Linked DNA regions of Homo sapiens. The protein of the gene in region 2 purifies or fractionates together with the protein of the main gene of each other region. This does not show direct contact. Each region holds a gene or a part of one and is shown on either strand. Other genes may lie near its edges.

Evidence for each region. Proteins that work in one complex are often made in the same cells at the same time.
Region 1: the proteins of HK2 (region 2) and MARCHF8 purify together in Homo sapiens (affinity purification with western blotting; 2 studies listed by BioGRID). This does not show direct contact.

What each region holds. Positions count from the first base shown.
Region 1 is NC_000010.11:45,462,359-45,469,385, forward strand, and holds part of MARCHF8 (E3 ubiquitin-protein ligase MARCHF8), read right to left. Parts: intron 2,001-7,027; exon of another isoform or gene 1,970-2,000; coding exon 1,881-1,969; intron 1,639-1,880; coding exon 793-1,638; intron 1-792. UniProt on the Homo sapiens protein: E3 ubiquitin-protein ligase that plays several important roles in innate immunity and adaptive immunity.
Region 2 is NC_000002.12:74,879,106-74,886,132, reverse strand, and holds part of HK2 (hexokinase-2), read right to left. Parts: intron 5,869-7,027; coding exon 5,564-5,868; intron 4,423-5,563; coding exon 4,274-4,422; intron 4,014-4,273; coding exon 3,894-4,013; coding exon of another isoform or gene 3,831-3,893; intron 640-3,830; coding exon 544-639; intron 1-543. UniProt on the Homo sapiens protein: Catalyzes the phosphorylation of hexose, such as D-glucose and D-fructose, to hexose 6-phosphate (D-glucose 6-phosphate and D-fructose 6-phosphate, respectively).

The DNA of each region.
Region 1 (7,027 bases), on a different chromosome or scaffold from region 2:
GTGGCTACACCTCAGTTAAAAAGAAGGAAGGAAGGAGCTACTGGAGAACAGCCAGTCCCCACACACCTTTTGGGGGTAGGTAGGGAGCAAGGGTTAAAAAAGAGGCTGGGAGATGCAACAATGCTTAAAATCTGGACCATCAGGCTGGAAAACTGAAGATACTAGTTTCTTTCTTCCAGTTTCTTTATGCAAAGTCTACTTATTTTTAGTTTAGAAGAGTCAGCTTGGCCTTTAATATGTGTAGCTTCTTCCTCTTTTTTTTTTTGTTTTGTTTTGTTTTTTTTTAGACAGAGTTTCACTCTTGTTGCCCAGGCTGGAGTGCAATGGCGCAATCTTGGCTCACTGCAACCTCCGCCTCCCGGGTTCAAGCAATTCTCCTGCCTCAGCCTCCTGAGTAGCTGGGATTACAGGCGCCCGCCACCACGCCCGGCTAATTTTTGTATTTTTAGTAGAGACGGGGTTTCGCCACGTTGGCCAAGCTGGTCTCAAACTCCTGACCTCAGGTGATCCACCCGCCTCAGCCTCCCAAAGTGCTGGGATTACAGGCGTGAGCCACTGCGCCCAGCCAGCTTCTTCCTCTTTTATCATTTGTAAAACTATCTTGGGACTCACATCATAAAAATTAAGTTTTTCAAACGATATTGATACTCCATTCTTCTGGAGAAAACCATCAACCCACAACTGGTTACAACTTCCTATTACTTCATTTTCCTGAAACTTCACATACTAAAGCAAGAGGAGGTTCCTGATGCGAGCAGAGATGGCTAGAATGGCACTTCCTGGCAAACCAACCTGCAGACATCCCCTGACGTGGACACGGGAGATATGGGGGGTAATTTTTCAGAGAAGGGAGAAGGACAATCCAGGTCGCTGTCCTTTTCCGTGGAGCAGAGGGGCGCCCGCAGAACCCTACTCTTCAGTTTTGCAGATGTGCTGTCCTCAAAGACATCGTCGTCTCCCATCTCGTCAGAGCAGAAGCCCATACTCCCTGCCAGCCCGCTGGAGGACTTGGCAGTGTGCAGGCGAGCAGCGCAGCTCTCCAGCTCATGGAACCTGTGCAGGCTGCTGGCGCTCAAGCCGTGCGAGAGTGAGAACAGGTACTGGAGCAGTTGCCGGCTTCGGGACGTGGCCTCACCATCCGCCTTCTCTTCCAGCAGCAGGCCGGGCCTGCCCCCCTTGCCAGCTTCCACCTCTGAGGCAGTTGAGCGACCGGCAGAAAGGCATGAAACACAAGAATGTTTGGAATTGCCAAGAGGTTTGTGGTTCAGGGTTCTTTTTTCTTTATGATGAAACCTGTTAGTTCTGAGACACGTATCTTGAGGGAGTATTAATTTCCCTTCAGAACAAGTTCTTTCCACATAGGCAAAACTTTCTGAAGTATCCTGCGCCTTCTCACCCACATCATTGAGGGACCTTGAGAACTTTAGTGTTCTTCTGGCTTTGGTATTCTTAGCAGGCTTCAAGGCCTGGGCCCATTCTGAACCAAAGGAATTTCTCTTTGACGCCTGTAATGTGTCCTTACAGATAACTGTCACAGTGAGCCCTTGTGTCAGAGAACTCTGGCAGTGAGGAGCTTTCGAGACAACAGCAGACTGCACGGAACTGTGGTGACAACACTCAGAAAACACTGCACTGGAACTGCATGCAGAACAGTGGGATAAAAGCACAGAAAGTAAAAACAATTTTAAAAGAGAATAGACATCATAGTGAAGAAATGAGACTAGCATGGGTAACTTGGTGAGCAAACCACACATAAAACTCGCCAACTGTTTAGACCAAAGGCAGATTGATTAAGCAAATGGAAATTCAAGAACCTACAGACACTAATGCTTATTTCTGGCTGCACACTGATCATGGCAGCATCTGAAGCAGAGTGTTACCTGCAGATGTCCTGGCTGGATGGCGTGATAGAAGTGCGAGAGAAGGAGGACACCGGAGCCGGAGCTGATGCTGACGGAGGACTCCCAGCCTGCAATGACAGACCTGTGGTCAGTGTTCAGGTAAGAGCCAAGGGGATTGTGTGCACTGTCTCCTGAATGGTGACAGGGAGAAACCCTAGAAATGTCTGCTGCTTCCCGCTGCTCAACGAGTAACACATATTAGATCCTTCTAAGCCTTGGCAAAACAAATCAAATATCACTATTTTTTTCTTATCTGTGGATAAAAGTGTAAGAAATGTCTAAGGCTATGGAACACCACTACTAATCTCTTGCAGGTCCAGTGGCCGTTTATTTTCTAAGCATCTAAATTGAGTTAGTTCATATATAAGTCAAAAAACGAAGTACTAGAAGGTATCATACAAATGCCAAAGAAATATGAGGCTCCAGGCCTGCTGGCACTGGCTTCCCTAGCACTCTCTCCTAGTTCCCAAGATCAACAAGGCTGGTAGATTTAAGAGCTCTCTCCCACCTCACAACCTCATACATAGTGCCAGATGCTCCCTGAGTTCCACAAAACCTCACTGCCCTGCCACAGCTCTTCACACAAAAGGGAGTCCAGACCACGTCACCATGGGGGACACCAATCCATAGCTCAACCAGGGGCTGAGGTAGAGCACAGAATGCTCCCAACAGATCTAATCTTGAAACTGTAAATTAAGAAAAATAATCAAGAAAATTTAGATTTGAAAGAAAGTACAGCAAGAGGTCATGGGATAGAACAGAGTCTCTGGGGTGGTGAATAGTCAAACTTAGAGAAAAAAATCTAGGAAGGAGAGGAAGCACTGCAGTGAGGAGAGAAATGGACAGAGAGAAATAGGGACAGTGAGTGGCACTGAGCTGAGGATGCACCACCACCGCTAGAGGGCCCCAGACTCCCACGCCAGCCTCGGATTCCCCAGGCTCCACAGCCCCACAGACCTATGCGTATTCATAAAAAAGCATTCTTCCCTCCTTAAGACAGTAAGCCTGAGTAAGAATCTGCTCCATGCAACCCCAACAGCCCCAGGAAAACAGTGCCACGAGTCTGTTATCACCAGAAAGGCCATATCACCACCCACCTTCTGCAGGCCCACCTGCATGGCCCTTGGCCCTAACTCCTTGATACAAAGGAGCTCCACCCTGGCCCACCATTCCCTGGCTGAGGCCTAGTCCCCACTCTTTCTAAGTACCATCCCCAAGGGTGCACTCTCATCCTGGAACTCCACCTTTGGGACCCCCGACCCTTGGTCAACCACCAGAACAGATAAGGCCATTGCCTGGAAACTCCTCCTCCCCCTACCCCTCACAGCAAATGAAGCAGCCTGGAGAGAGCCAGGATGGCACTCGGATTAAGGCACCCATCGCATGGCTGCTCCCACTCCCAGTGCAGAGATTCAACAGCACTTTAATGCAAGTCCACCTGAAGAAACAAGATCCAAGAAGCTCTCATCAGCATGCTTCATGTGTACACTGAGATCACGCTGTGCCACTCCATGAGCACATCTTCGAATTCACCAAAGAATCTACATTTATTTTCTAACTGAATGTGCATATGGGCATGAGGTACACGGTCTTTAAAAGCATTAGAGGTCAAAGTTCTTAGGAATCTTAAGTTTACTTGGACACATGAAAATAGCATCCTTGAAATAACCCTCCCATCACTACCTTTGTCAATATTCTTCCTGAAACAAAATGAAAGACATCTAGGGATGCCTGTGGACACTATGCTGTGACATCCCTTGCATCTTCTAGGCCTGACTGCATAAGCCATTGTCCTTTTTCTCCAACTGCCTTAGACACTGTCCCCTCTCCAGCATCCTCCTCTCGGGGCACCCATCACTGGCTCCACCTGCCCCAGAGACAAGCACTCAAGGCCTTTTAGTACAATGGGCTTTACTGTTTATACCACAGGGGAGCAGATTGAGAGGGTATCCATGCTAAGGTCCCCAAACTCCTACAGTCCCCCTGTTCTCTGACATTTAGTCCTAACACTATTCTGGGACTGAAAGCCTTCCTGTACTTATTGCTCTCTTCTTTTATTTCTGAGGATGACCAGCTCTGTTCAACACACATAGGCAAGGCTAAAATGTGTCATGAAGACCAAAGCCTGATCACGGTGTATTGCAGAGAAGTAAGCGTCTTCATCACCTGTCCCCAGGTAGACTTTGAGGAAGAAATACCCAGCAATATCCACATGCTTGCCCCTCATTGCTATGAGGTCACTTCTTCCTCTGTGTTGCTGGGTCAAGCATACTCCCTGGAACTGATGAGGCATTGAAGGAAGCCCCCTTCCTTCAAGGGATGGCAGCAGAGGAAAGTACCTAGTCACCCTCCTCCCTTTTATCTTAGTAAGAGCATGGTCCTCTTGGAACCACGTGTACTTTCCTGTATTCTGAAGGGAAGGCAAACCCTGTTGGGAGGAGGTAAGGTCTTATCTGGAAAATCGTGCCCAATCAAGGTCAGTGTCCTGGGTCCGGGAGGCAGGTTTCTGATGGGAAATTAAAGTTCTGAACTCCAGTACTAAACTACAAGTAATCCAAGTCAAAAAGTGTACTCTGGGGTAACGATTCCATCCTTGCATGCCCATGATGAGGAGCAAGGCCTGAAGGTAGGAGGGCAGAGCCTCGTAACAAAACAAAGCCTGGATCAAGGAAGCAGCCACACCAGGCACACACACACGTCAGGACATGTGTTCACTTCCCTGTGTGGTTCCCCATGTGTGTGCACTTGTAGCAGATGTCAAGGCCAGCATGACAGTGACAGCGGACCCAAGGAGGAAGGGAGTTCTGGCAGGGCTGGGGAGATTCTGCCCTGCTCAGTTTTACTTAGGAAATAGGAAACAGCGTTGGCATCCTCTGCCTACATTTCTGCTCTCATTTCACCATTTCCAATCTTATGAAAACATTACAGGATACTCTCAGCAGGTATGTCCGATCCTCATCAAGCCTCCCAATGACAGAGAAAGAGTCTCTCTTCTTATTAGATCACAGAATTTAAAGAAAAATTTTAAAATCTACTTATTGTTATTTTACATAAATATAAACTTCAACAAATGCTAACTCTTCCAATAAAAGCAAGAAAACCAGTGAGATCTGTGGGGTCTTCACAGCTCCCAGAAGAGGCTCCTTCTGTCACGATCTAAAGGACAGCAAACATTTCAAAGGTCAGAACCAATCCATAGGCAGAATGGTCAAGAAAATAATTTTAAAGAGCTTTATTTGTTGCTGCTATAGACCTGAGAGAAATCTATCAACCAACAAAGACCTAAAAGACTGGCCTGATCAACAACAAAATGAAGCTGACAGCTTCAAATAATGGTTCCATGGTCAGATTCTGGAAGCCAGTGTAATCAAAGGCCAGCAATCCCCTCTTAGGAGCTCTGCAGGACAGAACCTTACTAGATGGGACAGGACCTCACTAGATGGGACAGGACCAGCCGTCCTGCTCTTTCTGAAAGCAGCAGGCAGTGTGGCACGTGTGAGCCGGGGGCAGTACTAGCTCCAGAGAACACCTACACTCTCCTCTCCATAGGATCAGACCACACACGACTCGACAATTACTAATAAAAGTGCAAATGTTCATCATGCAAAAATCCAAATGTGTCAAGAAAACTTAGGCCCTCTGTTCCTGAAGTTCTTTGCGGGTTGCCAAATGACAGACTCTCCAGTCATGAAAAGGAATATAAAGCAATCTCACTACAAAAAAAAAAATTCTTGTAAAAATCCTCCCTTCTTCAGATGTTGTAATTAATTATGCCAAAACAAACCTCTGGATTTCTATCCAAGCCTAAATCCCAGTTTATTTTATTTCTTAGAAATGATAAATACTTTTTGACAATTTGTTTTGCTACATCCAAGTCTTTTAGTGGCTGGCTTTGTTATCAAATTCACCATTTTAAATGATTTTAACAAGGTTGCCAAAGAACATACGGGGAAAAAAAACTTTTCCATATATCCTTGGCAGAAACTGGCATTCCCCTTTTCTCAGTTCCCTTCTGAGAGTGCCTGCTGTCGCTGGAGCAGCTATAGCAGTGTGTTTACCCAGTTGATAGTGCACACATCCTTCTCACTGCAGGACACCAGCGCACCTTCCTTGGCCTCTGGCGCCTTCTGCCAGGTTACTGCCCAGCCTCCTCTATTACCCACGCCCCTCATTTTCTGTGCAACCCCCAACTGGGCCTCCTTTTCACTCATCAGCTAAGCTACTTTTAAACATTTGGGTCTCAGGCCCCTAACAAAAGCAAATTTGCCCATCTGATTTATTTCAAAAGGGAGAGGGCCACAGGAATGATCTGTTTGAGTGAGCTTGTTTTTAGGCAAGGAGGAACGTGAAGACAGGCTGGATAAGGATGGTTAAGAGGCCAGAAGAGCTCATGTTTACAACTCATCACAAATTACAGTACTGCAAATCAATGACTTAACAGAAACAATGGGAAAAGATGCACAGATGGCTCTCAAAACATGAAAAGATGCTTCATTTCTCTCACAATGAGAAATACAAATTAAAACTACAATGAGATACCATTATCAGCCAAGAAAATTAATCAAATAATATGTGTTGGCGGAAGTGTTGGGAAGCAGGTATGCTTATACATTGCTGGTGGGAGAGCAAATGGTAAACCTCCACAGGATGACAACTGCCCTCAGGATGACAAAGGCACATATACTTTGTCTCAGCAATTCTTTTAGGAATTCATCCTCACACACCTGCGGGAAGAGGTTTGTACACTGCACTAGTTTGTGACAGCAAACGGCTGGAATCACCCTAAATGCCCATCACCTTGGAGCTGAGGCAACACTGTTCCATCTACAGAAAGAAATATCAGCAATCATTAAAAAAATGGGAAAAGTTCTCATTATGTCCAGTAATGAACACACAAAGTGAAACAAGCAGAGAGAGGCACCACTGCCATCTGTGCTGGTGCTGCACAGACTACTCAGGAGGGAGACCAGGGAACCTGGATGGAGGGACATGGACTTGTCACAGAGACCCACAAAACCATAATGCCACTTTACACTGAGCAACATTTCCCAAACAGAAATTCATTCTTAAAATAACAGGTGATTGATGATTTTAAAAAGTAAAACAAAACTGCAGAAGCACAACCA
Region 2 (7,027 bases):
AGACCCTCCCAAGTTGTGCTATTTAACAGTGCCCCTTTCCAGCACACTTGCTCCATCTGCTCTCCTCACCCCACTTCACTCCTTTTCTTTCTTTTTTTTTTTTAAACTCTATATGGTCTAAAAAGGGAAGGCATGAATAATACACCCCTTGTTTAGCATATAATCAAGAAATAACCATAAAAATGTGCAACCAGCAGCCCTCATGGCTGTTTTGCTTATGGAGTGGCCATTCTTTTATTCCTTTACTGTGTGTGTGTGTGTGTGTGTGTGTGTGTGTGTGTGTGTGTTTCACAGCTCTTAACAGCACCTGCCACTAGGTCATGGACTTTATAGAACAAAGCTTTGTTGTGGTCACTCCTGAACCGCCAGTGCTGAGAGCATTGCTTGACACACAGTGCACACTAAACTGCTGAACGACGCTTGAGTTAATCTTCCTCCCAACCCATGCAGCCACACTTACTGTTGCCTTCACTTTCTGAACACACAGACCAGGCCAATCATTGAGGAGCTGACACATCAGACCTCGTGCCATGTGTCTCCTACCTCTCGCCGGTGGATCGCTTCCTTCAGCAGGGTCACCACGTCCTCGCCCTCGCAGCCAGATGCCTTGAAGCCTTTTGTCCACTTGAGGAGGATGCTCTAAAAATCACACACAAGCATGGAAAGGACATCAGGGAAGAGCTCCCAGGTCAGTTCTGGGGGTCCAGCTGTGCTTCTAGCTCTCAACCTCACAGGTCAGACGGATCCCCCAGAGTCACCAATCATCTCACCCGCAAATTAAACTGTTCCTAAGGTACTTACTTGGATTTATTGAGCACCTACTGTGTAGCAGGTACTGGGCTAAGCATAGATCATGCATTACATTATTTAACCCTCACAGCACCCTTGTGGAACATCTATCATGTTTATGGCCACTTTATAAGAAACTGAGGCTCTGGAGTGACTTGCTCAAGGCCTACAGCTTGGAAGAGAGAAGCAGGATGCACTCCGAGGCCCTCCGACCCCAGTGAATGGGCTCATAAGCACCACGCAGCTGACCCTGCTGTGCAACTTCTTCCTATGTGCTTGGTTCGCTCACTGGGCAAAGCAGTTTGCTCTGTCCCTATCCTTTACATCAGAAGGGTCAGTGTATGTCTCCTAATTTTCAAACTCCAGCATCTGGCGAACAAGTGCTTTGCCCACAGCTGGGTGACAGCTAGGCTTCACCACCACCCCATGTCTTTCAGTGAGGAAAACAACTCCAGGCTCCTCCTCAGCATCCTCAGTGGCCCCTTGCCTTCAATGTGGTCCTCTGGGAGCAGATGCTTGACGGCTTTGAACCTGGGAGAAATGCTTTGGGTTTTATTCCCTGATGCCCTCTCTGCTGCCACAGCCCACCAGGAAACAAGCCTCAGGGCTTCAGACTCCTTACCCAAGAGCTCGGCTTCCATAAATGAGCTGTGTGCTCATAACCCACCCACTTGCATGATTTCTCCAGGCCTTGCTCAGGGATTCATGCCCATCAGCTTGGCATTTCATTCACATCAACCTGGAGGTGTCACACTGTGTTCAGACCCCAGGAGATTCAGAAAAACAAAGCACATACCCTCAGAGAGCTGGCTGACCAGTGTGTGCTGATCTCCACCCAGCTCTCTACAAGTTAGCTTCACATGTTTGACGCAAGTTTGTGTTTACGGGATGTTCAAATAACATAATTTCAGGTGATCCTTACTGATGAGGCAAGTGGAGGCCCAACAGCTGGGAAACACAGCTGGGGGCCACAGAGCCCTGGGGTCTCTAACCCCAGGGGCCTCTGCACTGGTGGGATTTCCCCATCACAGGAGGGTCTTGCCAGAGCCCACAGGAAGAAATGACTTCTGCTTTATTTGCTCTTAATTTTTACGGCTCTAGACCTAACACGTGCTCCTCAGAGAAACCTGGAACACAGAATAAAACCTAATCCAATGGCCTGGAATCTCACAATTCAGACAGAAACAGTTAACACACATTCTGGTTTCCCTGGCAAATATATAAATAAATATATAACCTGTTGGCATGAAAAGTTAAGATAGTATCTACTTGAAAATATTTTGGTAGGAAGTCTAGAAGAAGGATATACACTGGAGGGTTATGCTTTTATCATCCCATTAATTGTATTTTATGTTTTTTTATAAAGAGATTACCATTTCTAAAGAAAAGTAGTTTTAAAACTTTTTAGTCATATCACCAGTAATTTTTCATGTGATTAAAATTTATTACAAATAACTAGTGGCTGATACTAGCTAATAAGTGGGTCATAATTTATTTAACTACTATCTCACTATTCAGCAAGTTTGTTTCTAATATCTTTGTTATAATAAGTAATGGTCCATTAAATAGTACATAAGAATTTGTCCACATGAGGCATAAAGCAACGCTAGTCTGGTTAACACTACATGAATGTTAATAGGTGTTGAGAAATGCCAGACTAAGCTGAGTTTTTATTGCAGAACTTCCTAAAACCTTAATTATACTAGTGCACATGGGGAATTCTCTCAGATAAGGAGGAGAAGGAGGCATCTACAAAACTCAGTGAAGCCAAGGTGAGGGCCACTGTTGCAGGGACCCTGTGGGAAATGCTGCTCTTTCCTTGTCACTAGGGTAGGCTCTTCTGCGCTGGCCCAGCTCTTTCTGTCACTTGCTCCCACCTACATGACCCTCTCCACAATGGGCAGCCTGCTCACCTTTCTTTCCCATCAACTCATTCTTCTGACTTGTTCCAAGTCCTCCTGACATCCCCCAGGTATGCACTCGGATTAACATCTGTCTCACTACCTGTCCTGGGGGCTTCAGTATCCATCCCACGAGGGCCACATTCCAAACAGCAGCTCTTCCTTTTCTGAGCTTGCTTCATCAGCCCAGCTTGTTTGTAAGCATCTAAAGGTAGGAGCCATGCCTTTTATACCTAGCAGTGGCATGTGCAACATACCACACACCGGCAGCGTGCACGTGCACTCCTACATGACTGAGACAGAGACACAACTGCTTAAAAACAGTCTCCAGATACCTAATGCTTAGGGCTACCAGTCATCAGCAGATCCAGCACTGCCTACTCAGTTCTCCTCCACTTCTCGGGGCACTCATGTCCAGAACATCTGGGAGTGCCAGATCCTCATGCACCTACTTCATTCACCCAAGGTAACCTGAAGAGGAGTGAGAAGCAAGATGAGACCAGAGAAGAGCCAGGGCATCCAAACAACAGGATATGGCATGAAAATGCCCTGAGCCCATAACAAGGGCCTCAGGAGCCCCACAGCATAACTGACAGCACAGGCTCAGGCATCAGGAACCCAGAATCCAAATCTTGGCTTGGCCAGTCCCAAGCTATTATGACCTGGAGCAAGACACCCAGCACCTCTGTGGGGCTTATCTTCCTTTCTGTAGAATGGGTATTCAAACATATCTCTTATATGGTTGCTGTGAGGGTTAAACGAGATAATGCAGGTAAGAAACCTAACATAGTACCTGGCACACAGTAAGTGCTTAAAAATGCTATATATATATATATAAGTTCAATAGAGATGGGGTCTTCCTATGTTGCCTAGGCTAGTCTTGAAATCCTGGCCTCAAGTAATCCTCCTGCCTCAGCCTCCCAAAGTGCTGAGATTACAGGTATGAGTCACCACACCCGGCAGTTGTTAACATTGAGTAGCATCATCATCGTTGTCCCAAAGGCTGTCACAGCTGAGCTAACCTACTTAACCTCCACCAGCCTCAACTTACTCATTCCCATCAAGGAGCCCCTCCCCACTACTGGTAACTCACGCCCTCCTTTCCTTAGTCTTAGCTCAACTTTCTCCCCTGCTCCATACCTGGCTGGTTTTGTTTAGAGTCAATAAAGCCCACAGGAGAGCCCTCCAGGAAGGTGCTGTTACCTCGTCCAGGCTGTTCTGCTGGCAGGGGAAGGAGAAGGTAAAACCCAGAGGCAGGGACACGCCCTTCATGCCCATGTACTCGAGGAAGTCCGCGATGCACTGGACAATGTGGTCAAAGAGCTGCAGGGAGAAGTTAGGACACTGAGGGAGGGGCCCTGGGCAGGGCAGGCTGCCCCCAGTAGGGCCTGCGCACAACATCAATGTTTCTTTCCACCCAGAAGAAATGCAGGCTCAGGCACAAACCTGAGTCAAGACCAGGCTGCAGCCCTGGGTCCAGCTAGCCCTCCCCAGGGTCACAGATGAGCAGAGAAAGCACTGTCCTCGAAGGCAAGAGGTGACGTCCACCAGGGGCCCCCTCCTGAAGGCGCCGCCCTGCTCACCTCGTCCCCGGTGCCGTGCATGACCTCCTGCGGGATGGCGTAGATCTTGTTGTGCATCTCCACTCCACCCCACTTCCCATTCCGAACACGGACCAGCAGGACCCGGAAATTTGTTCCTCCAAGGTCCAAGGCCAAGAAGTCCCCTTTCTCTGGAAAATAAGCCCAGGGAAGTGATAAGTTGGGGCAGAACATGGGGAATGTGGAGACAGTACACTTAAAACGATCCAAATACACCATTCCTGTTCCATCAAATGCCACTTTATATTACATTCTAGAATACAGAAGGAACAGAAGAGTCCAGCTCCCTGAAGGAAGCTGAAGGGAAATCTTTTAAACTGAGAAAACCCTCCCTTGTTGGACAATTACAGTGTGCCACATGCTTCACACACAGTCCTCGTTCAACCCTTAGGCAGCCCTGTGAGGGAGACACTGCATTCCTCTCTTAAGGATGATTGGGATCTGGCTGATAGTTAAATCACTTGCCCGGGGCCATACGACCAGGACAGGGTAGAGCAGGGACCAAATCCCAGTCTGTCTCTGGAACCTGTAACAACTGTGCTACACTGGCCTGCTCATCGACTGTCTTCTCTGAATTGGAATAAGACCACCATTTCTGAGGTTACAAGACTTACAGCAGGGGTCAGAAATCTTTTTCTGTAAAGGCCCAGACAGCAAACGTTTTAGGCCCTGTGGGTCATGCAGTCTTTGCTGCCACCACTCAACTTTGCCAAGACAGTGCAAAACAACCATAAGCAACGTGCAGACGCATGGGCATGGCTGTGTAATAAAACCTTATGTACAAAAACAGGTGGTGGGCCAGATTCAGCCCATGGGCCATAGTTTGCCAACCCTGACTCAGACCAATGTGGTGATTGCAAGAGCAGATTCTAGAACCTGAATTCCTGGGTTTGAATCCCAGCTCCGACATTTTCTAGTTGTGTGAATTTAGGCAGGTGTCTTAACTTCTCTGCGCCTCAGTTTTCTGTCAAACATAGGTGAATACATAAAATTAACTGCTAATATTTTTTAACAGTTAACAAAGATTAAATGAGCTCATACACATAAAGTGCTTTGACACACAGTAAGCATTCAATAAGTGTTGACCATTACTACTGTTTGCAGAGGAGCACCTTGTTTGAGTTTATCAAAGACTAGAACTCCCTAGTAATACGGCTGAAGAAACGTGTTCTGGTTCAAATGTCCAATGCTAATGCTAAGGGATCCCTCCCAGGGTATCAACACCAGGACAAAGGCCCACCATGTGAGCCAGGTGGCAACCCTGCCGTGTACCTGTGCCGTCCGGGGTAGCACACACGTAGGTGGGCAGCATCTTGACGGGGGCACTGGCATGAGTCTCCTTGCTCAGACCTCGCTCCATTTCTACCTTCATCCTCCTCTTGACCTCCAGCAGCTGGTCATGGCTCAGCTGCAGATGCTCTAATGTCTTCTGGCGGGCACGGTGTTGATCGGCCAGCCGGTAAGCCACTGCTGTCACCATGGCTGCACCTTTGCCACTGCCATCCTCGGAGCGGAGGAAGCGGACATCGCAGCCGGGCACCAGCCGCCGCACGGTCTTATGTAGACGCTTGGCAAAACTGCAGTTCCCCAGGGCGGGTAAGAGACAGGTGTCCATGGTTAGGGTCAATGGTGCAAATAGTTAGACAGTTGCCCACCGCCTTAATCCAAATGCCAAAAGGCACCTGCAGGAGTGGGTGCTGCCCTAAACATCCTCTCTCCACTGTCCCAAGTTAGGAACCACTACAAGAACCATATCAACTATGACCACCCAGGATTGGTTCACCCCCGCCAATGAAAGGAAAAGACCTTTTAATAAGCCACTGTCCCCTACATGCAGCCACACAAGACCTCCTCTTCCTCACTGAAGAAGGCCCCCTGGCCACTGCTCCCTTGCCCAACATGGTACCATCAGCCTCTTTGCTGGAGCAGCCCTGTGGTATTAGGTGGTTCTGATGCCACCTATCTGTCTTGTTCTATCACTCATTTCACTAGCTGCTGTCTGGGAAAGACCCAAAATTAAAAGCTAGAGATGCTCTTCTGGACTTTAGCCTCTCTTTTGCCAGTTTCTGCCAATGATCCCAAAGGTGTCTGCACAGCTAAAGACAACGTGTTCAGCCAGGAACTCTCTGGGTAGTGGCCACTTGGAGCCATGGTCTCCAGGGCCTTCCTACTCCAAGTGCAGGAGTAGGCTGCAGCCTACTGGGGGCTGTTAGAGATGCGGGATCTCAGACTCACCCCAGACCTTCTGATCAGAATCTGCCTCTTAGCAAGATCCCCATGTGATTCACGTGCACACTCGAGTTTTTGCAACACTGGGTAGGAAGAGGGAATCTCAGGGCTGAGGCCTCCTGCACCGACAAGTTAAGAAAACAAAGGCACATTGACCTGGCATTCTTATTAGGTGAAAATGATGGGGAAATAAGTAGGCACAATAAAGAGACATCTTCCAGGTCTCAGCTGACATGTGAATATTCTGGTACCTATGACCTGAGGGATCAAAATGTGGACAGGGCAGGATCAATTTAATACCAAGGTCAGCCAGAGAAGCTGGTAACCCTCACTGGGCTGGGGTGGTCCCTGGCAGAGGACATAGCACCTGCAGGAATCACCAAGAATTCTAAGAGTAAAGACAGGAACAATAACGCATACAAGAGGGTGGCAAAGAGAGTGTCCAGCAGCCAGAGGAGCTCTGCGGAGAGCCCGAGTCATCAGTAGCCTTCAGAAATCACCTCCACC